5 separate regions of the Homo sapiens genome follow, and regions 2, 3, 4 and 5 are each linked to region 1. The links come from fine-mapping of genetic effects on gene expression. A gene starts in region 1. Each other region holds a variant in brackets. All regions are shown on one strand. Distances are between the middles of the regions. Region 1 holds the start of MCPH1 (microcephalin 1). Region 2 overlaps MCPH1 (microcephalin 1). Region 3 overlaps MCPH1 (microcephalin 1). Region 4 overlaps MCPH1 (microcephalin 1). Region 5 overlaps MCPH1 (microcephalin 1).

Region 1 (5,201 bases):
AATAGATTTTGTTCTATTTACATTTAAGAGTAAACCGAGGCCGGCACAGTGGCTCACGCCTGTAATCCCAGCACTGTGGGAGGCGGAAGTGGGTGGATCCACGAAGTCAGGGGTTTGAGACCAGCCGGGCCAACATGGTGAAAAACCATCTCTACTAAAAGATACAAAAAATTAGCCGAGCATGGTGGCGGGCACCTGTAATCCCAGCTACTGGGAGGCTGAGGCAGGAGAATCACTTGAACCCGGGAGGCAGAGGTTGCAGTGAGCCGAGATTGCGCCATTGCACTCCAGCCTGGGTGACAGGGCGAGACCCGTTTCAAAAAAAAAAAAAGAAAAAAGTAAAACAAAAATTTACTCTACTGGCCAGGTGTGGTGGCTCATGCTGTAATTGCAGCACTCTGGAAGGCCAAGGCAGTGGGATCACTTGGGCACAGAAGTTTGAGACCAGCCTGGGCAACATAGTGAAACCCTGTCTCTAAAAAAAATTTTGTTTTTAATTAGCCAGGAATGGTGGCGAGTGGCTGTAGTCCCAGCTACTGGGTGGGAAATGGGGGTGGGTAGGGTGGAGAAGCTGAGGTGGGAGAATCCCTAGAGCCCAGGAGGTAGAAGCTGAGTTATGATCGCACCATTGCACTCCAGCCTGGGCAGCAGAGAAAGACCTTGCCTCAAAAATAAGAAAAGTAAATGAAGTTTCTTCTACTGGCTGAACAAAGTAGCTCATGCCTGTAATCCCAGCATTTTGCAAGGTGGAGGCGGGAGGATTGCTTGAGGCTAGGAATTCAAGACCAGCCTAGGCAACATAGTGAGACCCTGGCTCTACAAAAAAATAATAAATTAAAAAATAAAAATAAAAATAACCGGGCGTGGTAGTGCCTGTAGTCCCAAGTTACTCAGGAGGCTGAAGCAGAATTGCTTGAGCTATTATGTGATCACATCACTGCGCTCCAGCCTGGGCAAGAGAGTAAGACTCTGTCTCATAAATAAATTTCTACTGAAAGCCTTTTCAAAATAGCTTCAGTGGAATTTATTAAAATTTTAAGCAAAGAACAACTGTACCCATACAATACATGAGAGTTTACATTTGTAAAATTAGTTGCTTTCCCCAAATTCTTACGCTTAATTTTTCCAGTGCAGAAACCTATTTTCTGTAAAGAGACAGATGGTAAATATTTCAGGCTTTGTGGCCAATACAGTATTTGCCACAACTACTCAACTTCACGGTTGTGGCACAAACATAACCATAGGTAATATATTAACGGGCCGGCCTGTGTTCCAATAAAACTTTATTTATGGAGAAGGAAATGTGAATGTGATATAATTTTTCATTTGACCTTTTTTTAAAATCACTTAAAAATGTAAAAGACATTCTTAGCTCGTAGACCCTTACAAAAACAGGCAGCAGGCTAGATATGGCCTGGGGGGCATAGTGAGTGGACCCCTGTTCTAGTGGATATCCTCTTCTCAAAACCTGATGTTTAAAAGCATTTTCCAGGTGTGCCGTTGGTCAATGATTGGGGGTAACGCTAAAAGAAAACCAGGTTAATTTAACAAAATACTAACATTAGAAAAATAGCCACATCTGATTACAGACTTTGTATAAAGCCTCTAGTCTTTACTTTTGGCTATGAGGTTTTATGACTCCAGGCCCCACAATACAGGCCCCTTTTTTCTCACGGTCAAACTCTACAAGACACGTGTCCGCTATTCCCCTCTCCTGGGCTCTTCCAGGTGCACAGAGGGTGGGACTGCGTGCGGTATCATATACTGGTTAGGACAGCAGCTCCGGTCTAAGGCCCTGTCAGCACTGACTAGCCACACACAGGGAGAGTCACCTAAACGTCCGATGCCTTAGTTTCTGCCTGTAAAATGATATAAGAGAGTTGATAGAGCGGTTAAAAAAATCAGACAATACCATACTAGCCTAAGCACAGCGCCTGGCACACAAAGACTCCGCAGTAAAAGGCGGCTCCTATTATTGGAACAATTAGCATAGAAACTCAACTGCCGCTCCTCCAGGTGGGCCTCAGAGGGGGTCGAACAGGACCAGACCCAGGAGGGCCCCACACCAACTTCCGGAGGGCAGGACTCTGCCTGCCAGTGAGCCCCAGATCCAGGGACTAAGGCAGCAGGGGTGAAAGCAGGTAGGGGGAAAGGCGGGATTTGGGGGACAGGCAGCATGGGGGAGGGAGCAGGCAGCGGGGGATTGAGGGGAACTAGCAGCACGGGGGTTGGGGCACAAGCAGTACGGGGGAGGAAGCAGGCAGTCGGGGGTTTGGGGGGACAGGGAGCACGGGAGACGAAGCAGGCAGCCGGGGGTTTTGGGGGGACAGGCAGCGGGGGAGAGAGCAGGAGCAGGGGGTTTTGGTGGGACAGGCAGCGGGGGAGGAAGGAGGCGGCAGGGGGTCTGGGGGAGACAGGCAGCGAGGGAGGGGCGAGCGGGGCTCCTCCCACGGGATCCCCCGAGTGCGCCCGCGACGAGGGGTGCCGGTCCTCAAACTCCCGCTGCTGGAGCAGGCAGCAGGAAGTACCTCACCTTTCAGGATGGGGGCCGCCATGACAGACGGCGGGATCCGGCCAGCTGGCCTACGCGGTGCTTGCGAGCCTGGCGGCGCGCGCGGGCACTGGGCATGCGCGGGGTGAGCGCGCCGCCGTCACCGCGCTCCGCTGAATCCGCGTTTCCGGGATTTCTCTGTAGGTGAGGCGGGAGGCTGGAGGGAGCTGAGCCCCCGGGGAGGGGGCCCGATTCCGCCTCGCCGCGCCTCTGGCTGCTGGGCCGTGGGTTTTTCTCTTCTCCTGGGAGTAAGGAGGACGACGGCCCCTAACCCCTGAATTAGCCTTCTATTTCCATTAGTGACTTAGAAGCTACCCGGCGCCTCATCTGGGCTCACCTGAGCTGAGGATCAGGAAGGGGAGGGGGCACAGTCATTCCCTCGCGGACGCGGCGGGACCCCAGCGGACGGCTTTGTGCGGACTTTCGGCACCGTTATGCCCCCCTAGCCCGACACCACCTGGGGCTGGCGCGCCACGTTACTGTTCAGGGCCAGACGCACCGCCCTGCCTGCTCCGGGGAGCCGGACCTCCGATCCCGGGGATGGGGGACCCCGAGACCTCAGACCCAACGGAGGGGACTCTGATACCTCAGACCCCACGCGGGGACCCCGAGGCTTCAGACCCCCACAGGGTGACCCCGAGATCTCAGACCCCCGCAGGAGTACCTCCAGACCTCAAATCCCCAGTAAGGGAATGAAAGAGACTTCGGATCCCTGAGGCAGCAAATCCCTGTAGGGGCATCCCAGGACTCAGGTCACCGCGGGGTGAACCCAGACCTCACATTCAGGCAATCCCCAGGACGCCGATCGGCTGGCACTACCCACTGTCCCGGCCACCCCCCCTGGAGCTCAAAGGCTTGGCCCTCCAGCTGCTCCACCCTGCCGGCAACCAGGCTCAAACCTGCAGCCCGCGGATCCCCTGCCCCGGAAGCAACCAGATTCGCGGGAGGTTACCTGACTGATCCAAGGTGATACAGCTGGTAACTGATGGAGATGTTGGTAGTGAAATTCATGTACTTTTAGTTCTTTCTATGGAATCTAGAGGTAGAATACATGTAAAAGAATATCGACTACCGTCTACTCAGGTCTCTGTTTTATCTGTTTATTCATTCACTCTCAGCTTTTAATAGGATCCAATGAGCCCTCTGTGGTTCTGAAGAATTGCCTTGAGTATATGCAGCCTCAAAAAACCCACTTCCTAGGCTCAGTCTTTGATCAATATTTATCATTATCACCAGTTATTGTTCTAATAAACTCTACTCTGGAAATATGGTGTTATGGTTTACTTGGGAGTGTGAGTTCAGGGCATCATTGAAGACTCACGTACTTTTACTGAGAAAGTGACATTGATCTCTGTAGATTTTGAATTAAATGATATGATGAAGTATATAAACCAATTACTTTTGGTCAAGGTGGTAAAAAAAGTTTAGTATTTGATAGATTCTTCATCTCCACGATCACAAATATTTTCTCCTAGGATTTCTTCTAGAAATATTACTGCTTTAGGTTGTATATCAGGTCTAGGTTCTACTTTTTTTTTTTTTTTTCTCCAGGCAGTTTCTCACTCCGTTGCCCAGGCTGGAATGCAGTGGTGTAATCACAGCTCACTGCAGCCTCAACCTACTGGACTCAAAGGATAAGATCTGCTTTTAATTAATTTTTGTATACGGTATGGGATAGGGACCAAAGTTCATTTTTTTGCATGTATACATATCCAAATGTTCCAGCATCATTTATTAAAAAGTTATTTTTGTCTCTACTGCATTTCCTTTGTGCTTACATCAAAATCTGTGTTGCATATGTATGTGTTTCATTTTAGGCTTCCTATTGTGTTCCATTGAGCTATTTGTCTTTTTGCTGCCAGCACCATGCTGTTTTGATTATTGTAGCTATATAAATAAGTGATGAAATCAGATAGTTTATGTCCTACAACTTTATTTTTCAAGGTTATTTTGTATCTTCTAGATTCTTCAGATTTCCTTTTAAATCTTAGAGTCGACTTCTCATTTTGCACAAAAAAATACTGCTGGGATTTTGATTGAGATTGTGTTGACTCTACAGATGAATTTGGGGAGAATTGACATTTTAACCATATTGAATCTTCTGACCCATTAACATTTAGGTCTTTTAAAATTTCTCTGGCCAGACGCAGTGGCTCACGCCTGCCACTTTGGGAGGCCAAGGCGGGCCGATCACAAGGTCAGGAGATTGAGACCATCCTGGCTAACACAGTGAAACCCCATCTCTACTAAAAATACAAAAAATTAGCCGGGCGTGGTGGCATGCGCCTGTAGCCCCAGCTACTTGGAAGGCTGAGGCAGGAGAATGGCATGAACCCGGGAGACAGAGCTTGCAGTGAGCAGAGATCTTGCCACTGCACTCCACCTGGGGCAACAGAGCGAGACTCCATCTCAAAAAAAAAAAATATAACTGTTGTTAGATTTTAACCTAAGTATTTGTTTTTTTATTTTGTTTTTCTTTTTTTCTTCTTTTTTTTTTTTTTTTTTTTTTGAGACAGGATCTCACTCTGTCTCCCAGGCTGAAGTGCAATGGTGTGATCATGGCTCATCTTGAAGCCTCGACCCTCCTGGGATCAAGCTATCCTCCCACCTCAACCTCCTGAGTAGCTGGGACTACAAGTACACATGACCA
Region 2 (5,000 bases), 230 kb before region 1:
TTTCATCTGCATCTTATACACATAGCCTAGAGGTAATTTTATACAGTATTTTAAATAGTTCTGTGCATAGACTGGTGTGATTGCCAGGTGCGACAGCATGACTGTAGTCCCAGCTACAACGGAGGCTGAGGTGGGAAGATCGCTTGAGGCCAGGAGTTAGAGGCTGCAATGAGCTATGATCGCAGCACTGTACACCAGCCTGGGCAACAGAGCCAAACTCTGTTTCAAAAAATAAACAAACAAATTTTGTGCATGAAACAAAGTCTGTGTACATGGAACCATCAGAAAGCAGAGGTATCACTATCTCAGCCCTCACCCCCATGTGGACAATCAGTGGTTGTGTGGCATCACCCTCATTCCTGACTGTGACTTTTTTTTTTTTTTTTTTGAGACAGTCTCTCTGTCACACAGGCTGGAGTGCAGTGGTGAAATCTTGGCTCACTGCAATCTCTACCTCCCAGGCTCAAGCGATTCCCCTGCCTCAGCCTCCCAAGTAGCTGGGACTACATGCATGTGCCATCACGCCCGGCTAATTTTTGTAATTTTTAGTAGAGATGGGGTTTTGCCATGTTGGCCAGGCTGGTGTTGAACTCCTGGCCTCAAGTGATCTGCCCGCCTTGGCCTCCCAAAGTGCTGGGATTACAGGCGTGAGCCACCGTGCCTGCCCGTGACTCTGAATTTATATGCTACTACCAAGCAGTCATTTCCTTACACTTATTCACACATAAGTACTTCACAGTAAAAAATAAGACATGCCATTAACACAGTGAAGACTTACGTGCTCAGGGGAGCTAAGCAGCCAGTGGCATCAGCAGAGACCGCAATCAGCTGCTGAACAACAGCAGCAACAACAAACAACAGCAGGCCTCTGCTCTCCCAACCATGCTGTGCTTTGATTCAAAGCTTACGGGACACGGCATTTTACATTTTAGGTGAGAAGGAACATAAGAAGCAGTTACAGGCCCAGGAAGTGGGTCCTCTGGGGACGAGGAGGCATTCTGCTGGGGGGCTTTTTAATGGTATCTGCACCACTAACAATGGTCTTAGAACCGACAGCTCCTTTCTGTTGGTTCAGTGTACACAAAGTTTGTTTCATGTACAAAATATTTACTTAGTTTTTTGGGTTTTTTTGAGACAGGGCCTCGCTGTTTCCCAGGCTGGTGTGCAGTGGCATGATCACGGCTCACTGCAGCCTCTAACTCCTGGGCTCAGGCAAGACTCTTACCTCAGCCTCCCACACAGCTGGGACTATAGTCACGTGTCACCATGCCCGGCTAATTTTTTTTCTTTCTTTTTTGTCTTAGGATTCTTTCTTTGATTTTATAAGCTGACATGATTGCTTGTTCTGTTGTGAATGCACGCTGCTCTGGGCCTCAGTTAACCCATCACACCTGAGCTCCACGCTGTCCACGGGTGCTTTTTCTGCAGTGTTAACGTCATCTTCATGGTCGGTATCATCACGATCACCTTGATTCAGAACCATTCTGGCTATTTCCCCAACAGTCAATGAAATGAACAACCGGAGCCTCATTATCAATGTTAAAAATGACATTAATGTGTACTTCTTCCCGCTGACTGATGAACTCTGAAGGTATATTTTTTGGAGGTCAGACATCCTTTTCTTCTCACTTGACAAGCTGAATTCTTCTAAACCACCACCTGGTTCATCATCATCACTGAACACAGTCGTAGGCCAGAGGTCACGCCAGGCACGCACATCTGTGTCTTTAGTCACTGTGTTGCAAGCGTTGGCAACAGCATGTATGGCATCCTTCATGCTCAGCTCCTGAAAATCTTCTACACCTACACCTCCGTTCACTGCTGCGAGCGTGCAATTCAAGACAGTGTTTTTATATTTACTTTTCATTGATCTAAAGATACCCTGGTTACAGGCTCAACTAATGAAGTCACGTTTGGGGGAAAGTACACAGCATCAATATTATCTTTGATGAGAATTTCAGCTGGAGGATGAGCAGAACAGTAGTCAAGGCATAAGAAAATCTTGCTGTCATCATCCGGTCCAACTTTTCTGCAGCGAGCACAAGAGGCCTGTACGAAGTGTTTGTAAAACCGATCAGAAAAGATGTCCCTGGTGATCTATGCCTTTTTGTTAGCATAATAATGGACTGGTAAGAAATTTACTCTTTGAAAACAGCACGGACAAAAGCTTTTGCCCATGAGAGCAGGTTTACACTTATGCGTGCCTGCTGCATTTGCACAGCACTGCACAGTCATTCTGTCCTTGGCATCCTTAATTCCTGTAGGGGCTGTCCCGTCAGCTGTAGTCAGCATCTTTCTGGGGCAGTAGCACCCAAATGGTCATGTCTCATCAGCAATACAGACTTGTTCTGGCATCAGATTTTCATTAGCGATAATCTTGGCAAACTCGTCAATGAGTTTCGACGCTGCCTTGTGATCTGCAGATGCTTTAAAACTTGAATTCCATGTCATTTCTTAAATTTCTGCAACCAGCCTGTTGAATATTCACAGTTCCCTTCAATTTTCAGTTCATCAGGATAGATCTTCGCTTGTTTCATGATCAGCCTACCACTGAGTGGCACGGGTTCAGTGTGATGCCTTCAGATCTAGTTTTTCAATACACTATTCACATCTTCATTTTTAGCTTTACGTAGAGTTTTTCTATTTTTCATTAACTTCTGCTCATCACATTCAGCATAGAACTTCAAAAGCGTATCCTTCTGTTTCTTCAGGTCATGTATGGTGGTCATCCCAACACCATACTCTTCTGTAAGACGCTTCACACTTATACTGCTGTTCAGTTCCTCCAACAAGTTGACTGTTTGTGCTATTGATAAACATAAATTATTCCTCTTTTTCTGATCACTGTTACACATAGGGGGATCTGCAGGCCTTTTCGACATTTTCAGTAATATTTTTACATGACACTGCAGAGAATAAGCAAAAAACCACAGTGAGTAATGCATGGAGTTCTCGGCCCCACGTGAGGTATCGTGGGGAATCTGCGTTGGGTGCGTCCAGCCTGCACACGTGCCATTTTATTACACATTGTGGGCGTGCTTGTGTGGGGGAATTTGGGTGTGC[A/G]TGGAAAAGTTATACTATAGTTGAAGGGGGCTGGGTGGGTCTTTTTTTTCCCTTGGGGACGCTAAATCAACTGTGTCGTGCACCTGTGCTTTGACTATGCCCTGTCACATGAGGTCAGGTGTGGAATTTTCCACTTGTGTTGACAGATTGGCACTCAAAAAGTTTAAGATATCGGAGCATTTCAGATTAAAATTAGGAATGTTCAACCTGTATTACATGGCTAGCCTTGAATCCACTATTATTTACTATGTTTTCTGTTACATTTTATAATTGTTTATCATTGGGTATACAAATGCTAAAGATTTCAGTGAGTGGATCTTACAAAGAGGAATTTTGCTGAATGAGTTGTAACAGTTTATTGACTCTCTTTGATGTTTCTATGTAGACAACTGTATGACATGCAAACAAAATGTGTCCCTTCCTGTATAATTCTTGTAATTTTTTTTTATTTTATTCCCTTGACTAGGAATCATAGAACACTGTTGAAGAGTAATAGCATTCATGTGTGTCTTGTACATGATTTAAGCCTTAAACTAAGGTTTTCACCATTCAATATTTGTTGTACGTTTTTTATAGATAACCTCCATAGTTAAGAAAGTTATCTATTCCTGGTTTCTGAAGAGTTTTTTTTTTTTTTAAATCATTACTCGGCATTGAATCTTCCCTACTGCTTTTTAACACTACTAAGAAAATTAATGGATTAGAAAAAAGAAGACTTAATGCTATTCATTTATCCTTTCATTCTTAGGTTAAACCACACTTGGTTATGTGTGTGTGTGTTTTAAAAACACACTACCAAATTTGACTTGATGAAATATCTTATTTCTGAGTTTTTTTTTCTTTTCTTCTTCTTAGACAGAGTCTCACTCTGTTGCCTAGGCTGGAGTGCAATGGCGCACTCTTGGCTCACTGCAACCTCTTTCTCCCAGGTTTAAGTGATTCTCCTGCCTCAGCCTCCCGAGTAGCTGGGACTACAGGCACGTGCCACCACGGCCGGCTAATTTTTTGTATTTTTAGTAGAGATGGGGTTTCACTGTGTTAGCCAGGATGGTCTCGATCTCCTGACCTTGTGATCCGCCCCCCTCGGCCTTCCAAAGTGTTGGGATTACAGGCATGAGTCACTGCGCTCAGCCTCAGATTTTTATGTACTTGTTTACAAATGAGTTTTTTAAACCAGTATTAGGTCAAGATCAATGTAGCCTTGTAAAATGAGGTGAATAGATTTCTTTTTTTTTCCTGTAAAACTTTATAATGTTTGGTAAAACTTACTACTAAAACTATCTGTGGAGGGTGCCTTTAAAAGTTTGATAGACATAACATAAAATTTACCATATTAGCTATTTTTAAGTGTCCACTTCAGTGGCATGAAGTACATTCGCAATGCTGTGCAGCCATCACTACTATTAATTTCTAGAATGTTCTCATTATCCAAAACTGAGTCTCTGTAGCCATTAAACAATAATTCTCCACTCCCTTCCTGCCTACTCCACCCTTGGTAATTCAACTATAGTTTGTCTCTGTGACTTTGTCTATTCTAAGTTCCTCTTATAAGTGTAGTCGTATGATATTTGTCCTTTGGTTTCTGGCTTATTTCACTTAACATGATGTTTTCAAAGTTCATCCACAGTGTTACATGTATCAGAATCTCCTTCCTTTTTAAGGGTGAATAATATTCCACTGTATGGATAGACCACATTTTGTTTCTTATGCATCCACTGATGAACACTTGGGCTTCTGCCTTTTGGCTATTGTGAACAATGCTGCTATAAATGTGGATGTACAATTATTCTTTTGAGATCCTGCTTTCAATTTTTTTGGCATATACCCAGAAGAGGAATTGTTGGATCATACAGTAATTCTACTTTTCATTTTTTGATGAACTGCCACACTGTTTTCTATCGTGGCTACAATATCTTACATTCCCAACATTACATGAG
Region 3 (5,000 bases), 35 kb before region 1:
TCGTATTACACTGATATTCAAAAGTGAGCCATTTGGTAGGCTTTAATGTTTCAACTCTTATATGGATTACTCATTTCCTGAGAGTAATGCTAAGCTGCTGCTACCTCCTAAATATTCTATACTCCTCTGTACCCTCTGGGCCTTCCCCTTTCCTCCACACTTTATTCTGGGTAAATACAATTCATCCTTCCAAACCCACCTGGGTTGTCAACATCCCTGGGACCCTCCCACTGCCCTTGCCAGCTCTCCCTGGCCTTGCCCCCTCTGCTACACACCATCATGCATCATACTGCCCCATGGTTACGTGGGCATCTGCCCGTCACTGTGCTATAAGCTACTGGAATGAATATGAAGAAGTCTCTAGTCCCGTGCTGGCTCCCTCAATAGGGGCTCAGCACTTGCTGGTGGAGGGCCTGTGTTTTGTAGAAATCACTCAATCTGGAGGTCACGTAAGTGTTAGAACTCTCTGTCTGAAATCACTGAAGTTCTACTTTAAAAAGGAAGAACACAGGTAACCACCAAAGCTTCCCTTCCAACTGTGCCCCAGGTGTCTTCAAGGCAGTAGTTGGAAATAAGGTCACTTTTAATTTTAGATGCTCAATATATCTTATTCAGCACCTAAAATTGTTTTATGTTTTATCACACTTTTCAAAAACCCGATAAGCAATGTGACATGTCACTAAGAGTGTAATCTGTGATGTCAGACTGCCTAAGTTAGAAGCTTGGGTTTGCCATTCACAAACCACATGACCTTGGACAAGCTGTTTGACCTCTGTGTCCTGGTTTTTCACTGGCAAAATGGGATGGTGATGGAACCTACCTCTTAAGGCTAATGGGAGAATAAATGAGATAACAGTGAATAAGACACTTAGAGGAGTGCCTACAACAACAAAAATGAAATCAATGTTAGCTATTATTATCACTTGTTTCCAACTTCTAGGAAATAAATGTAACAAGTGTAAAATAAAAAGATGGAGACTGTTTAAGAGAAATGGGTAAATAATTCCAGCACACAGAGGTGAGAGTACAAGGATTAACCCTGCGCTGAAAGGAGGCTTTGTTTGAAACTTCTAATATCTTGATGCCATCTTGCGCTTTGTCATTGCTGTGGCTTTCATGATAAATTTTCCATAACATCTCAAGCACTTTTGAACATAGTACTTTCAGGGATCACTGCTACTTACTTGAGCCCCACTGGGGACTAGGTGAAGAAACTGTAAGAAATTTGGTACGAAGAAGATATGACCATGAAAAATTACCATCCTAAGTGGAACTAGGGCTCCCACATTACAAACATGTATGTGCGTAACATGGAACTAACTGCACTAATTCCTACCAGTGTTCTTTCTGCTTCTAATTAGAAATCCTCTATTTATCTCCTCAATTGACGATCTTTACATACTTCACTGACCCCGTTCAATAACAGGTTCCTTGTGTTAATTATACATTGTGTGAAACAACATTTCCTTAGCTCTGACCTCAGTTCTATGTAGTTTAAACTGCATACAGATTAGTTCATATACGTTCACAATAATTTTTTAAATAGAGCAATGGATTCTGTAGCAAGAAAGCAAATGCCTAGGAAAAAAAACCTATAGGAACCAAAAAGGAAGTTTAACTCATGCCTTAATTTTATTATAATACCTAATTTCAGGGGGAAATTTAGAAGTTCTAGTTTTAACTAATTATTTTACTCATCAGAAGTTGCTACATGAAATTCTAAATCAGAAAATCATATTATTCTCAAAACTTAAACATATCACAGAAAGGAAAATAAAAATTTTACCTGAACACAAAGTATCACGTGAAATGTTCAAAGGTGCTTCACACAGAGAGTTACTTGGATTATCATGAGACTGCTGAATCATTTGGGAAGCTAAAAACAGGACCAAGACACTGCATTAGATAAAGTTTCAGTATTTCTTAGCAGATGAAGCCAGCAGGAAGTCCTCCTATTAATCATAGGTGATTCTATTAAATCCTATAATCACAAAGTTAGAAGGGATCTTAAAGTCAACTTGCCTGAATCTAATCAGAAGCTCAACAGAATTAAGTGAACATTTCCAGTCTGTTCTAGTCTTCTTATTTGATAATCATGGATTTTTCTTCAAGGATGCTCATCATAGTTACCTCTAAAACTAGAGCACTGCTTCCCAACCAGAGGTGACGTTGGGGTCCCAGCAGATATTTGGTAATGTCTGGACACATTTTTGGATATCGCCAGTGAGGGAGAGCAGTAGGTACACTGCTAGTGTTAGTGGGGAGAGGCAGGGATGCTGCTGAGCTTCCTACCACACACAGGGCAGTGCCCCCAACAAAGAATTACCCAGACCCAAATGTCAGCTGTGCTGGGTTGAGAAATCCTAGAGGTTTCATAGAAAACACTTAGGATGTCAATGACTTAACAAATAAGATCGTAAGTATTATCTTCAAAGGCGGTTCATACAATAGTCAAGAAACAAAAGAAATGTTTGGATCTTATATCCAAAGATATTTTTTAGAGACTCAAAAGGATACTTTTCTGAGAAAACTTCAGCAAAAAAA[G/AG]AGAATAAACCAAGATAAGGAAGGGAAGCACACATAAAATTTTCAGTTAAGTTTTAAACTGTACTGGACGCAGTAAAGTAGCAGAATTAACACTGCCAAGTAATAGAAAAAGTAAAGTTTAAGGCAAATTAGTTTATACACATAATTGCACACTGAAACAATTTGGATGTCCACCTGGGACACAGCTAGTTATCTACCTCAATGTCCATTCTCACTTCTTCTTAACAACAGAACTTTGATTTTATCAGGACAGCAATGCATCCCAGTCAAGACTACATTTCAGTCTTGCTTGCAAAAGGGGTGGCCATATGACCACATTCCAGCCAATGGAATTAGACAGGAATATTGGATAGACGTCTGGTAAGGCTGTCAAAAGGAGATGGCTTAGCTGGGAGGCACACACATTTTGCAAGAAAAGCCAGGCAGGTACAACAGAAAGATGGGAACCTAGTTTCTTAAAGACACCATGGAATGGCATCCCAGCCCTGGCTGCCTACTTCTGAACTAGGCAAGACAGAGAAAGGCAATTCTATCGATTGTAACACATTGGTTTTTGTCTTTGTTATATGCAGCCGAAACTAACCTTAACTGATACATATGGACAAAGGACATAAAATTAAGCGAGGTAATAGTTGATCACATTAAAAGCTGCATTCGGTAAGTCAGTCAGTAATATGAAAAGGCACTTAAACCTGCTTCTAATCAAAAGTAACTTCAAGAACAGATCCAGTTTTTCAAGCTTCCGACTGAAAAAGGCTACAGGCTAATGCCATTCAGTTTTCCAAGTATGGAGAAAGGGGCATTCTTATAAACAACTGGTGACAATAAGATGACTCAAATTTTTTGAAGGATAATTTGACTATATCTATCAATAAGCCAGGGATCGTGGCACACACCTGTATTCCTAGCTACTTGAGAGGGTGAGGCAGAAGTACTTGAGCCCAGGAGTGCATGTCCTGCCTGCGCAACACAGGGAGACTCTATGTCTTTAAAAAATCAAATTCTGCATGTATGAATTAGTATTATTGAAATACACGAAGTACTCAGAAATACAAGGATTCACGTAGGCACATGCAGGGGTTATAACAGTAAAAAGTCGGGGTGGGAAGCTGGAAAGACTTATGTCTAGAGAAAGGAAAATGGCTTAACAAAAAAACAAGAACAACCAAACCATATGGTTAAAAAAAGAATAAAAACTGCAACACAATTTCTAATAACTGGGAAAAAAATACCCACCAATAGATTTTCAATATCAAAACTGTAGACTACTTTGAGCATCTTAAAACAAAAATAGGTCTACAACAACTAAGCTGCAAACAAACCCTCCAGGATACTCTTAAGTAAATAAAGCGGATAATAATACATATGTCATTATCTAATTTAGGTAAAACAGAAATTACACCTCCACACAGAAACCAAACCCGTATCTTTTTCATGTATACACAGATATCTGATACACTGAAACAGATCTGGAAAAACACTTAAACTTAAAATACAGGTTACCCCCAGGTAGAAGAGTACAATTAGATGGGTATCAAGATGAACTTTTACTATTAGCTACTTTGATAAATGTTTTATTAAAATGTGAATTACACTTCAGTAATTAAAAATTTTAAAGATAAAAGAAATAATGAAAAACAAACTGATTCCTTAGATACATTAATCTAAAGCAAATTCCTTCAAAAGACATGATTCACGGCCAGGAGCGGTGGCTCACGCCTGGATTACAGTCCCAGCCGTTTGGGAGGCCGAGGCGGGTGTATCACCTGAGGTTAAGAGTTTAAGACCAGCATGGCCAACATGGTGAAACCCCGTCTCTACTAAAAATACAAAAAAACAAAAAAAAATTAGCCAGGAGTGGTGACAGGCGCCTGTAATCCCAGCTACTCGGGAGGCTGAGGCAGTAGAATCACTTGAACTAGGGAGGTTGCAGTGAGCCCAGATCGCGCCACTGCACTCCAGCCTGGGTGACAAATGCAAAACTCCATCTCAGAAAAAAAAAAAAAGACATGATTCATTTTTTTTTAAAAAAAAAGAAAGAAAAAATTCCAAAGATAATAGAAATTACAAAGGAGCTACAACAAATAGGATTTTAAACTTGAAGAATACTATACACCCAACATATGCTTCAAAAATCTTAATGATGCATAAGATTTTCTGGAAAACAAAGCCAGCCATGAAATAAGTCAAAATGTGTTACTACCAGGAAACATTAAAATATCTAGGCAAAGAAAAAAGAAGCTTTCCACCATAATTGAATCGGCTATTTGCATAATTTTCATTTTACAAACTAATTACTTACAGGTGGGGGAAAGATTTTCCCTTTTCTCCTTCATCTCTTGTAATCTCTTCTCCATTGCGCTGTGGTGCCTACTATTAATTTCAATTGTGGGAGTATATATTAATGAACCATTAGATTCAAATAAGAGAATAGGTACATCATCATCTGAAAATAA
Region 4 (5,195 bases), 240 kb before region 1:
TGGGTGCATATATATTTAGGATAGTTAGCTCTTCTTGTTGAATTGATCCCTTTACCATTATGTAATGCCCTTCTTTGTCTGTTTTGATCTTTGTTGGCTTAGAAGAGTGTAATATATTACAAAGATTTGTGATCAGCTTACGACAGGCTATTAATACTGTTATTTTCTTGTGCAACTATTGATTTCAGCAAGAATTTATGAATGTGCTGTTATCTCTAAAACGAACCCTGTTCTTAAACTAACAATGCTGTTTGTTCTTCAAATACTGGGACATTTCTGTAAGTTCTGGTTCTTTAGGTAGGTAGTCAGCATCATTAACTCGTTCCCTCAACTATAAACATCCTGTGACTGAGAGTGATCATCCCTCAGGGAATGTCCCCCATCAGGTTTGGCTCTATCCAGGCTTTATTCAGGATGGAGTCACCCTAGTTAGGACGCCTCTGACAATTCTGATGTTCTCATAATCAGTGCCCTAGTTATTCTCCAATACCTTGATAAGAATCTCACAAGGTATTTGCAACACTGTAAGAAATAGCAATTTGGTCTCAATCTCCTGACCTCATGAGGCAAGAGAATGGCGTGAACCCGGGAGGCGGAGGTTGCAGTGAGCCGATATTGGGCCACTGCACTCCATCTTGGGTGACAGAGTGAGACTCTGTCTCAAAAAAAAAAAAATAGCAGTTTGGTTTAACAAGACATTACATCTTGTGCAGAAGTAAATGAAATGTACATTTATAATATCCCATTGCGTATTCTAACTCCCTGCTTCTGAAACTGCATCCACATCACCGGATAGCTTGTTAGAATCCAGCCTTTGCAGTGAGCCATGAGTGTGCCACTGTACTCCAGCCGGGTGACAGAGGGAGACCCATCTTGAAAGAAAGAAGAGAGAGAGAAGACAGAGAAGAGACAGAAGGAAGGAGGAGAGAGAGAAGGAAGGAGGAGAGGAGAGGAGAGGGGAGAGGAGGGGAGGGGAGGGGAGGGGAGAGAAACGCAGCCTTTCTGGCCCCAGATGTGCTGAAGTAGAATCTGCCAGTTAACAATATCCCCAGGTGATTTGAATTTGTATTAAAGTTTGAGATGCAGTTGTCCAAATCCTTTATTAAATAGGTATGCTTAGATTTTTCTCATATAATCTCAAATGAAATTATAAGGGGCATGGTTATAAACAATTATCTAGAAATGATCTCTCAAGTCCTTGAATGGCATTTCCAAAAACATGAGATGATAACATTTACTGTAACTCAAGGTGAAAAATGTTTCATCAAAGACTGTCAATGTCTGCCCAAAATAATGGGAGCAGCTACATGGAACACAAAGACGCTCTCAGGGACCATCAAGGGAAGTCTCATTTGTGACATCTCTGCAATGTGCCATGTTTCATTTTCAAAGACGTTTTCTGAGTGTGATCAAAGTTCTCTGTCGTGCATAGACCATTTCAGTTTGGGACATCTTGGATGCACAGAGAAAGCCTTGTGGGTCAGGAGTTCTGGTATTTAGATTCTTTGCACTGAGTTACTGCTCATGGGTGGCGTGTCTTTCGAGATCTCAGCTTCTTTGTCAGTGATAGGAGGGACTGGGCCAGACCGGCAGTTTTCAAGCAATCTCGGAAGTATCTACAAAGGCGCTGTGCAGCCTACCCTTGTGCAGAGAAAGATGAGATCCTTGGGTGAGGATCTGAAACCCTCGTGTGACCACCCCCTACCCAGCTTAATGAGAGCGGTCCTGATAACATGTTTTTACGTATTGTATTTCTTTATGCATCCTCATGTGAACAAAGGATGTTGCTATTGAAAGAAGGCTGAGAACAAACGTCTATTAAGGAAGGTCTCATGGAAATACTTTAGATTGTAAGTTTAAGGACCATGTAGTTACCCTGAAGTCTATGGGACACAGAACACGTATAGCACTGAGGATAGTGACCTCAGTAAACATTGCAAGATTGATTATTAATTGTCATCTGTAGGAAACAATAAATTCCTCTTCGAAGTTTAGCCTGTTAATGTCTTTTAAAATTCAAGAGGGAGAAAATTGTTAAGTACGCTGAGTTCTGAGTTCCTCTCCAAAGAACCAATGTGTCAGTATATTCAGCTTCCCTGTTCTTTGTTCTCCATTTTAAAGTTTAACTTTCTCATTCTTTACATCTCTTTACCCCTAGTTTCAGTAAACAGCCCGCTCCTAGCCTCTATCACCTGCTCTGTCCTTAGTCACCTGTTCTGTCCTTAGTCACCTGTTCTGTCCTAAGTCATACGTAGTCACCTGTTCTGTCCTTAGTCATCCATAGTCACTGTTCTGTCCTTAGTCACCTGCTCTGTCCTTAGTCATCCATAGTCTCCTGTTCTGTCCTTAGTCATCCGTAGTCACCTGTCCTTAGTCACCTGCTCTGTCCTTAGTCACCCTTAGTCACCTGTTCTGTCCTTATTCATCCTCAGTCACCTGTTCTGTACTTAGTCACCTGTTCTGTACTTAGTCATCTGCTCTGTCCTTAGTCATCCTTAGTCACCTGCTCTGTACTTAGTCACCCACTCTGTACTTAGTCACCCTTAGTCACCTGTTCTGTACTTAGTCACCTGCTCTGTCCTTAGTCATTCTTAGTCACCTGGTCTGTACTTAGTCACCCGCTCTGTACTTAGTCACCCTTAGTCACCTGTTCTATCCTTAGTCACCCTTAGTCACCTGTTCTATCCTTAGTCATCCTTAGTCACCTGTTCTGTCCTTACTCACCTGTTCTGTCCTTAGTCATCCTTAGTCACCTGTTCTGTCCTTAGTCACCTGCTCTGTCCTTAGTCAACCTTAGTCACTTGCTCTGTCCTTAATCACCTGTTCTGTCCTTCGTCATCCTTAGTCACCTGTTCTGTCCTTAGTCATCCTTAGTCACCTGTTCTGTAACTGTCCTGCCAGTGTGGCTTGTACCTCTGCTGTCTTTAAAATAGCCAATTGGAATTAGCTTAGACTGTGCGGTCCAACCCTAGTCAGTGGGGGAAAGATATAGCAGTAGGGCTAGCTGCATTAGAAATAAGGCCCCCTTCCCCTCCCTTGTCCAGTGTGCTCTCGCCATTGTTCCATCCGCGAGATGCACCCTTCTATAAAAGTAAATTGCCTTGGTGAGAAGACTTCTGCCTGAGTGCTATTTTCACTTGGCAGCACTGAGCATTTACTTCCAACATCATCCCATCCAACAGCCTCACAGTTGCCCTGTTATGGCTGAACGAGCTTGTAGTATAGGCCTGGGTAGCATGAACACAGATTCCAGAGTGAGACTGCCAGTGCTGAAATGAGACAGTT[AGTTT/T]TTATTTATTCCACTTTTGTTCTAGGTTTCACTGAAGAAATGTTGGTTTCACAGTGCTGCCCAGATTCCCCTGGGCTGTTATCTGCATATTACTTTCTGTCTGATGGGTCCTCTGGGTAGCTGATACAGACATGGAGTTCAAAGAGCAAGAGATGACTAAGCGTGACTCCTGGGAAAAATAAAAGTGGGTAGAAGCAGGCTCAGGTATGGAAAACCTTCTGGCCACTGTGGAGGTCTGACAGCTTAGACCACATTGCAGGTCACAGGCAGTATCGGCCAACTCCACAGGGAGTTCTAGGGTGTGGAGCCTCATGTTGGGCTGAATCAGCCATGCCCTGTGCCTTTCTGTGCCCACGTATTGGCTGGGGACTGCAGAGAAAGACCATGGCCTTAACTTGAAAGCCAAGGCCGACCTTAAATGAACTACCAGATGCAGGTTGGTCAGTGTTAGCTACCTGCACTCATTGCTGTGGAAGAGAAAGTTCTTTCTCTAAGGGAGATCTGAGAGCTATTGCCCTGGGGCTGCCATGTAGCTCTCGTTCTCTCTCTCTCTTTTTTTTAAAAAAAATAGCTTTATTGGTGTATAATTCACATGCCTTAAGGCTTACCCATTAAAAGTGTTCTGTTCATTGATTTTAGTAAATGTATACAGTTGTGTAACCAAAATCACAATCCAGTTTTAGAATGTTTCCATCATCCCAAAATGTTTGCTCTCTGTTCCCACTCCCATCCCCAGCTGCAGCAGACCATGAATCTGTTTCGTGCCTCTACAGTTTTGCGGTTTGTAGAAATGGTATCTAAATGGAATCTTACAATTTGTAGTCTTTTGTGTCTGACCTCTTTCACTTATGTTTCTGAGGCTCATTCATGTTGTTGCACGTGTTTAGTAGTTTGTTGCTTTTTAGAAGTTTGCTGAGTAGCGTTCCATGGTGTGGATATACATTTTGTTTATCTACTTTTCAGTTGATGGGCTAATTTTTGGTTATTATGAATAATGTTGCTATGAACATTTGTATACAAGACCTTGTGCAGATCCATGTTTTCATGTATTTTGGTTATATACCTGAGAGTGAAATTGCTGGGTCATATGGTAGTTGAATGTTCAATTTTTTAAGCAACTGCCAAATGGTGTTTCAAAGTGGCTGTATCATTTTGCACTCATGCCAGCAATGTAGGAGAGTTCTAGTTTCTCCATATCTTGGTCAGATGTTGGAATTATCAGTCTTGTTGTTTACAGTCATTCTAATGGGTGTGTAATAGGTATTTCATTGGGCCTTTAATTTGTATTTCCCTAGTGACTAATAATATTGAGCATTTTAATGTGCTTAATATTTGTATATCTTCTTGCATGAATTGTCTTCAGCTTTTTCTTTATCCTTTTATTAATGAGTTATGAGTTCTTTACATGGTCTGGGTACAAGTCCTTTATCAGATATATGATTTGCAAGTATTTTTTCATAGTCTGTGGCTTGTCTTTTCATTTTTTTTTAATGGTTTCTTCAGAAGAGCAAAACTTAAAATTTTGACAAAGCCCAACTTATTTTTTTAATGAATTATGCCTTTAGTGTCATATCTAAGAAAGCTTTGCCTAACCTGAGGTCAGAATGATTTCCTGCTATGCTTTCTTCTGTACATTTTATTTTTTACATTAGGTCAATGGTTCTCAACTGGAAACAGTTTTGCTCTCCAGGGCACATTTGGGAATATCTGGAGACAGAGATTGTCAAAACTAGGTGTGTGTCAGGGGAGGGATGCCACTGGCATCTAATAGGCAGAGGCCAGGATGCAGCTAAACATTCTACAGTGCACAGGACAGCTCTCCACAGGAAAGAATTATCCACCCCAGCAAACGCCAACACTGCTGATGTTGAGAAACCCTGATATAGTCCACGTTGAGCTAATTTTT
Region 5 (5,000 bases), 56 kb before region 1:
CCAAAGCAGCAGATCTTAAATAGACTTCTTCGGCTAGCTCCTCTCTTAGCGCCTGTGGGTCTCCCAGTGGGAAATGTCCTCCGTCGGTGGCCTCTACCTTTACGTGGCCAAAGACGACCACTGAGGCACAGGAGATCCACCCTGGCTGGTCCTCATTTCTACCACGTCCAGTCCAAAACACATTTGACAATTTCTGAACCACACATTTACAATGCATGCAAAATCAGTTAGTGAACAAATAAAACACATTTTTAAAAAGATGGAGTTCTTTGAAGATCCTATTTAATGTTTTCTGTAGAAATATTTTCTCTCATACATAACAAGAAAAAAACAACGTGCTAATGGGGGCTGAAAGCAACTGTTAGGCTATCAAGAGGCAGCTGTTTTTTAAATGGCTTCATCAAGCAACATCTGCTGATGGACCCCACACCTGTTACAACGAGCACATCCCCGCCACTGCCAGCTCTGGGTACACTCTGCCAAAAGTGATTTATCAAAGCAATTACAGATCACTGAAACAGCTGTGTTGGAAACCAAGGGCACCTTCGATCTTACAGAGCTCACTGGCCGGCTGGTCGGCACTAAAGGGCCTATCTTTCTGCGTACAGCGGGTCTGAACAATGGAAATGATTTACATGGATATTTACAAAGGGTGTCATCCTCGAGGAAGTGTGGCAATTCCCCTAAACGTGTGATAACAACATACCCGTGCTGCATTTTCAAGAAAAAATAAATAAATATCACCTGTCCTTTGGATGAGTCACTGCTCTTTCAACTTGAAAGTTAAATTTAAAATCAAAGCTACAAGAGTATATGCTTCCAGCCAAGTGCACCATCTAATGGAAAACAGCCAAAGGCCTGGCATTACTGCAAACTGTAAAACTGCATTCATAAAATATTAGTGTCTCCATTACAGCAGTGAAGTACTCATTCCAGAACCTTTTACTTGAAGGACAGGAAACGCCAGGAAAATAATCCATTTTACATGAAAATTGGCTCAAGTATTCTATTTTCTCTGCTCAGGAAGGCATCTGTGTCCCTGCAGCTCTCTTTCCTCCTGCCCCTAGCTGGCCTGGCCACACTGCATCTGGGCTAGGCCTTTCCCACCCTCTGGGCATCTAGTACTCTTTTTATTCCCACCACTGGGACCCTTTTATCTTCTTTCCACTGCAAGGCTCCTTCTCTGGGGATGCTACACCCAAATGAGCTGTAATTCCCAATCTACTGCCTCCGCAATAAAGACATGATTAGAGCTCTCTGAAATATACTTTCTTTTCAGCTTTCCATATGACTGAGAAATAGAAAACTCAATCTAAAAAGAGGTCACAATGCTCAATAAATGACAGCTGTGAGTACCCTATCGCAGCTCACAAAGATCTCAGTTCTTTCAGGAAGGTTCTAATGATACTGGAGATGAGGAAAGCATCTCTCGAAAACTGAGGAAGCAGATCCCCCAAGCGGGCATTTCTGACCGCAGAACTCAGTCTTCTGCCTCCTGGGGGAGATGACAGAGCACAATTTCATGCTAATGGCCTACATCTCACCCCCAAAACAAAGGTTCTCAATGGGAGGATGACCATCAGCTCAGAATCACTGAAGGAGCTTTTAGAAAAGGCTATACTCCTATACTCACCCCCTGCCCAAGACTCTATTTTGGCTCTGGCATGCCTGTGGTCAGTAAGTCCAACAAGAAACACAGTGTGGACTGTCCCAGAGTTTTGAGGGTCATTTTCATTAAAGACACATGGTGGTCTCTGGGAGTGGGCAAAGAGGAGGCAGGTAAGAGAGACCTACTCCAAGTTATAGCTGCAGAACAAAGCACAGTCAATATGCAGACATGACCCTCACCCAAGCTGGTGCTGAAGAAAATAGCTAACATTTTTTGAGCACTTCTATATATGAGGTACTATCTTAAACTCTTTGCATGTTTCAACTCAATTAATTAGCACAAACCCTTTGAGGAGACTGGTACTATTATTATTATTCCTGTTTTATACACAAAGAAGTATAGGCACAGATATTAAGTAATTTGTTCAACACCATGGAACCCACAGAGCAGGTGAGTAACAGAGATGGGACTGAACCCAGGCATCTGGCTCTGGGGGCAATGCTTTAGCAACACTGCGCTGCCATGCACAGCCTTGGAGAAGAGAATCCATCTTTTACTGAAAGAAGACAGTCTCTCAAGTTTTGGAAGAATATTCAAAAATAAGTGAAGTACATGATGATGATTCCATCATTACTGAGTGATGGTTAAGAGCACCAAAAATGTTTTAAACATGTTCACTGAAAAAGTAAAAGGGAAATTAATGCATCTCTTATTTACTCAGAAAATATTTACTGAGCACTTATTTTGTTTGTGATGCTATATCCTGCTGAGTATTAAGAGACTAACAGGATATAGACTATGTCCTTATGGGCTCATATTCTAGCAAAGATGTAAGAACAAGCAACTATCAGCATATGCAAGCTATTATTTGTTTTGCACCCTATTTGAGAAACTTTCAGGAATTTAAGCATTCTATGTGGTGTGTAATTCTTTAATTTTTTTAAACCACTATCAAAATAAGTATGCTCTATTTGTTCCTTCACATCTCTCCAGGCCTCCAGGCTTAGGAAAGCCTCTGTAAACATTTCTGTGCTCTGACCCACAGCTTGCCTTCACATGCAACAAGCTGGATTGGCAGAGATGGCTCCAAAATGAGATTCTACAACTGAGCCACTTACAAAAAGCTATCCTGTTGATAACTCACATTAAAAATGTTCCTGAGGATAATAATCAATATTTTGAAAAACCAAATCCAGAAGTAGTAGAATAAACCAAATACTTGGAGAAAAAAAAATTACATTCGTGTATTTCTACCAGAGTGCTGGTATCTATACATAGCTTCTTTGGGTTCT[G/C]TGTCTGACAATATTCAACAAGTAACAAAGAAAACAGGTCAAAATTCGTCATAATATTTTCTATTTCTCCCTCTGAAAAGATGTATAACTATCAATGTCAATGACCTACATGCTGCAAGCTAAGATTACAGAGGTAATAAAACTGCTTAACTGGATCCTCCAAATAAAGTCTCACCAGGCCGGGTGTGGTGGCTCACGCCTGTAATCCCAGCACTTTGGGAGGCTGAGGCGGGCACATCACTTGAGGTCAGGAGTTCAAAACCAGCCTGGCCAACATGGCAAAACCCTGTCTCTACTAATTAAAAAAAAAAAAAATAGAAAAATTAGCTGGGCATGGTGGCAGGTACCTATAATCCCAGCTACTCAGGAGGTTGAGACACAAGAATCACTTGAACCTGGTGGGGTGGAGGTTGCAGTGAGCCAAGACTGGGCCACTGCACTTCAGCCTGGACAACAGAGCGAGACTCCATCTCAAAAAAAAAAAAAAAAAAGTCTCAACAAATTTGAAACAAGTATATTTAAAATAAGTCTAAAAAAAAACAGACTCTTTTTCTGACTGATTTATAGAGTGATTTTTGCCATTAAAAATGGGCATTACACCAAAAAAAAAGCTAATGGAAGTTATAGCTCTGAGATTCTATAATTCTTCATGGAATCATGGTTTTTTTCACTCTTTAAGAGAAACTGAATTAATGTCAATTCAGGTGTTTAGTGTGTCTTTTGCAAACTGACCTACGTGTTCATCTCAAAAATCATTTCTCTTGAGTTGGCCTCTTACTGCTGTCTTCTCAGAGAAGCATTCACACCAAAACTCTATTTAGAAAAGTTAAGTGGCCGTTAAAATTCACCCATCGTCTCCAGGAATGGTGGACTAAGTAGTTTGAAATAGGCTCCTCACTGTGAGCCCTCAGAAAAGCTGGACAAGATGCAAACAAACAAACAAGCCCCAGCTATTTGCAGACGTTGCCCAGCTACTAAGTCAGTGAGTCATGGAAGAAGAAACCCATGGAAGAGGAGGTGAACCAGAGTCAGAAGCCCACACTCCCAGGGGACAGCTAGCCTCACAGAGACAGAACCCCAGCTCCAGATCATCTCAGTCCCTGCTAGGAAGATAAAGACAAACTAACCAGGCATATTAGATATGGAACGTATGATTGAAAACAACAGATAAGAAAAACAGAAATTGAGGGGAGCCAGAAAAGGGAGTTATTTCAAAAGAAATATGCATAATATGTTCAAATAAATAAAAGATAGGATTAATAATTTTGACAGAGAACTGGAAATGGTTTTTATAAATCAAATAGAGGGCATGAAGGCTCCCGCCTGTAATCCCAGTACCCTGGGAGGACGAGGTAGGAGGATTGTTTGAGACCAGGCGTTCGAGACCAGCCTGGCCAACGTGGAGAGACCCCCATCTCTACAAAAAATAATTAAAAAAAATAAATGGAATAGCAGGGACTGAAAAATAATACATGTTAAAACTCAGTATATGGATTTAGCATCAGAATAGACTTAAAAAGAGTCAAAGGTGAAATGGAAAAGAAACCAATAGAAGACATCCAGAATGAAATAAGGAGATACAAGAGGAAAGAAATAGAGGAAAATCATGAGACATGGGCTATAGAAGCAAAGGATAGCACACGAGATTGCGTTCCCAGCAATGGAGGCGTGAGAAAACAGGCAAAAGAAATCACAGTGGAGAAGTTTCCAGAACAGATCAAAGACAGGACGGCCTGTGACTCTCAAGTAAATAAACAACAAAAACAATACCCTGGTACAACAATCACAATGAACCTACAGAAAACCAAAGATGAGAGCAGTCTAACCCCAGAGCCCGTGGCCGTGGCTGAAGTCAGCCTCTCTCTTCTCGCGGTTCTGCATCCATCCCCGGGCCACACCAAGGCCGTGCTGCTCTTCGCACAGGCTCCAGGCCTTCCCACCTTTCTTGCCTTTGTACCTTCTACCTGGCACCTTCACATTACTCAGAACTCACGACTGACAGCTCTCATCGACTGACAGTCCTGTCTGCAGGGCTGCCCAGATAGGACATTACCTGCAAGTGCTACTTCAGATTTAAAACTAAAAAGAAAATAAAGTCA

What was found. PIP is the estimated chance that this variant, and not a neighbour inherited with it, causes the effect. A credible set is the group of variants that fine-mapping cannot tell apart.
Region 2: its variant is the best candidate, but not a certain one, in a credible set for the expression of MCPH1 in prefrontal cortex (ROSMAP, PIP 0.71).
Region 3: its variant is the best candidate, but not a certain one, in a credible set for the expression of MCPH1 in whole blood (INTERVAL, PIP 0.85).
Region 4: its variant is the best candidate, but not a certain one, in a credible set for the expression of MCPH1 in whole blood (TOPMed, PIP 0.80).
Region 5: its variant is the best candidate, but not a certain one, in a credible set for the expression of MCPH1 in cerebellar hemisphere (GTEx, PIP 0.60).

The regions. Positions count from the first base shown.
Region 1 is chr8:6,404,022-6,409,222 of GRCh38, reverse strand. MCPH1 (microcephalin 1) reads right to left here and starts at 2,596. Exons shown (of 14, transcript NM_024596.5): 1 at 2,534-2,596. The coding sequence starts at 2,555. It overlaps MCPH1-DT (MCPH1 divergent transcript), which reads left to right and starts at 2,675. Exons shown (of 2, transcript NR_040040.1): 1 at 2,675-3,517; 2 at 4,103-5,201. RefSeq lists silencers at 2,335-2,514, 2,775-2,854.
Region 2 is chr8:6,631,724-6,636,723 of GRCh38, reverse strand. All of the region lies in intron 13 of MCPH1 (microcephalin 1), which reads right to left. All of the region lies in intron 1 of MCPH1-AS1 (MCPH1 antisense RNA 1), which reads left to right. Among named protein-coding and RNA genes, the nearest start is that of MIR8055, 12 kb to the right of the region's middle. The variant A/G (reference allele first, on the strand shown) is at 3,064.
Region 3 is chr8:6,438,943-6,443,942 of GRCh38, reverse strand. It overlaps MCPH1 (microcephalin 1), which reads right to left. Exons shown (of 14, transcript NM_024596.5): 6 at 4,847-4,990; 7 at 1,787-1,876. Among named protein-coding and RNA genes, the nearest start is that of MCPH1, 35 kb to the right of the region's middle. The variant G/AG (reference allele first, on the strand shown) is at 2,545.
Region 4 is chr8:6,646,581-6,651,775 of GRCh38, reverse strand. MCPH1 (microcephalin 1) reads right to left here. Exons shown (of 14, transcript NM_024596.5): 14 at 3,268-5,195. The region is part of intron 1 of MCPH1-AS1 (MCPH1 antisense RNA 1); the gene reads left to right. Among named protein-coding and RNA genes, the nearest start is that of MIR8055, 27 kb to the right of the region's middle. RefSeq lists an enhancer at 2,435-3,634. The variant AGTTT/T (reference allele first, on the strand shown) is at 3,286.
Region 5 is chr8:6,459,718-6,464,717 of GRCh38, reverse strand. The region is part of intron 9 of MCPH1 (microcephalin 1); the gene reads right to left. Among named protein-coding and RNA genes, the nearest start is that of MCPH1, 56 kb to the right of the region's middle. The variant G/C (reference allele first, on the strand shown) is at 2,902.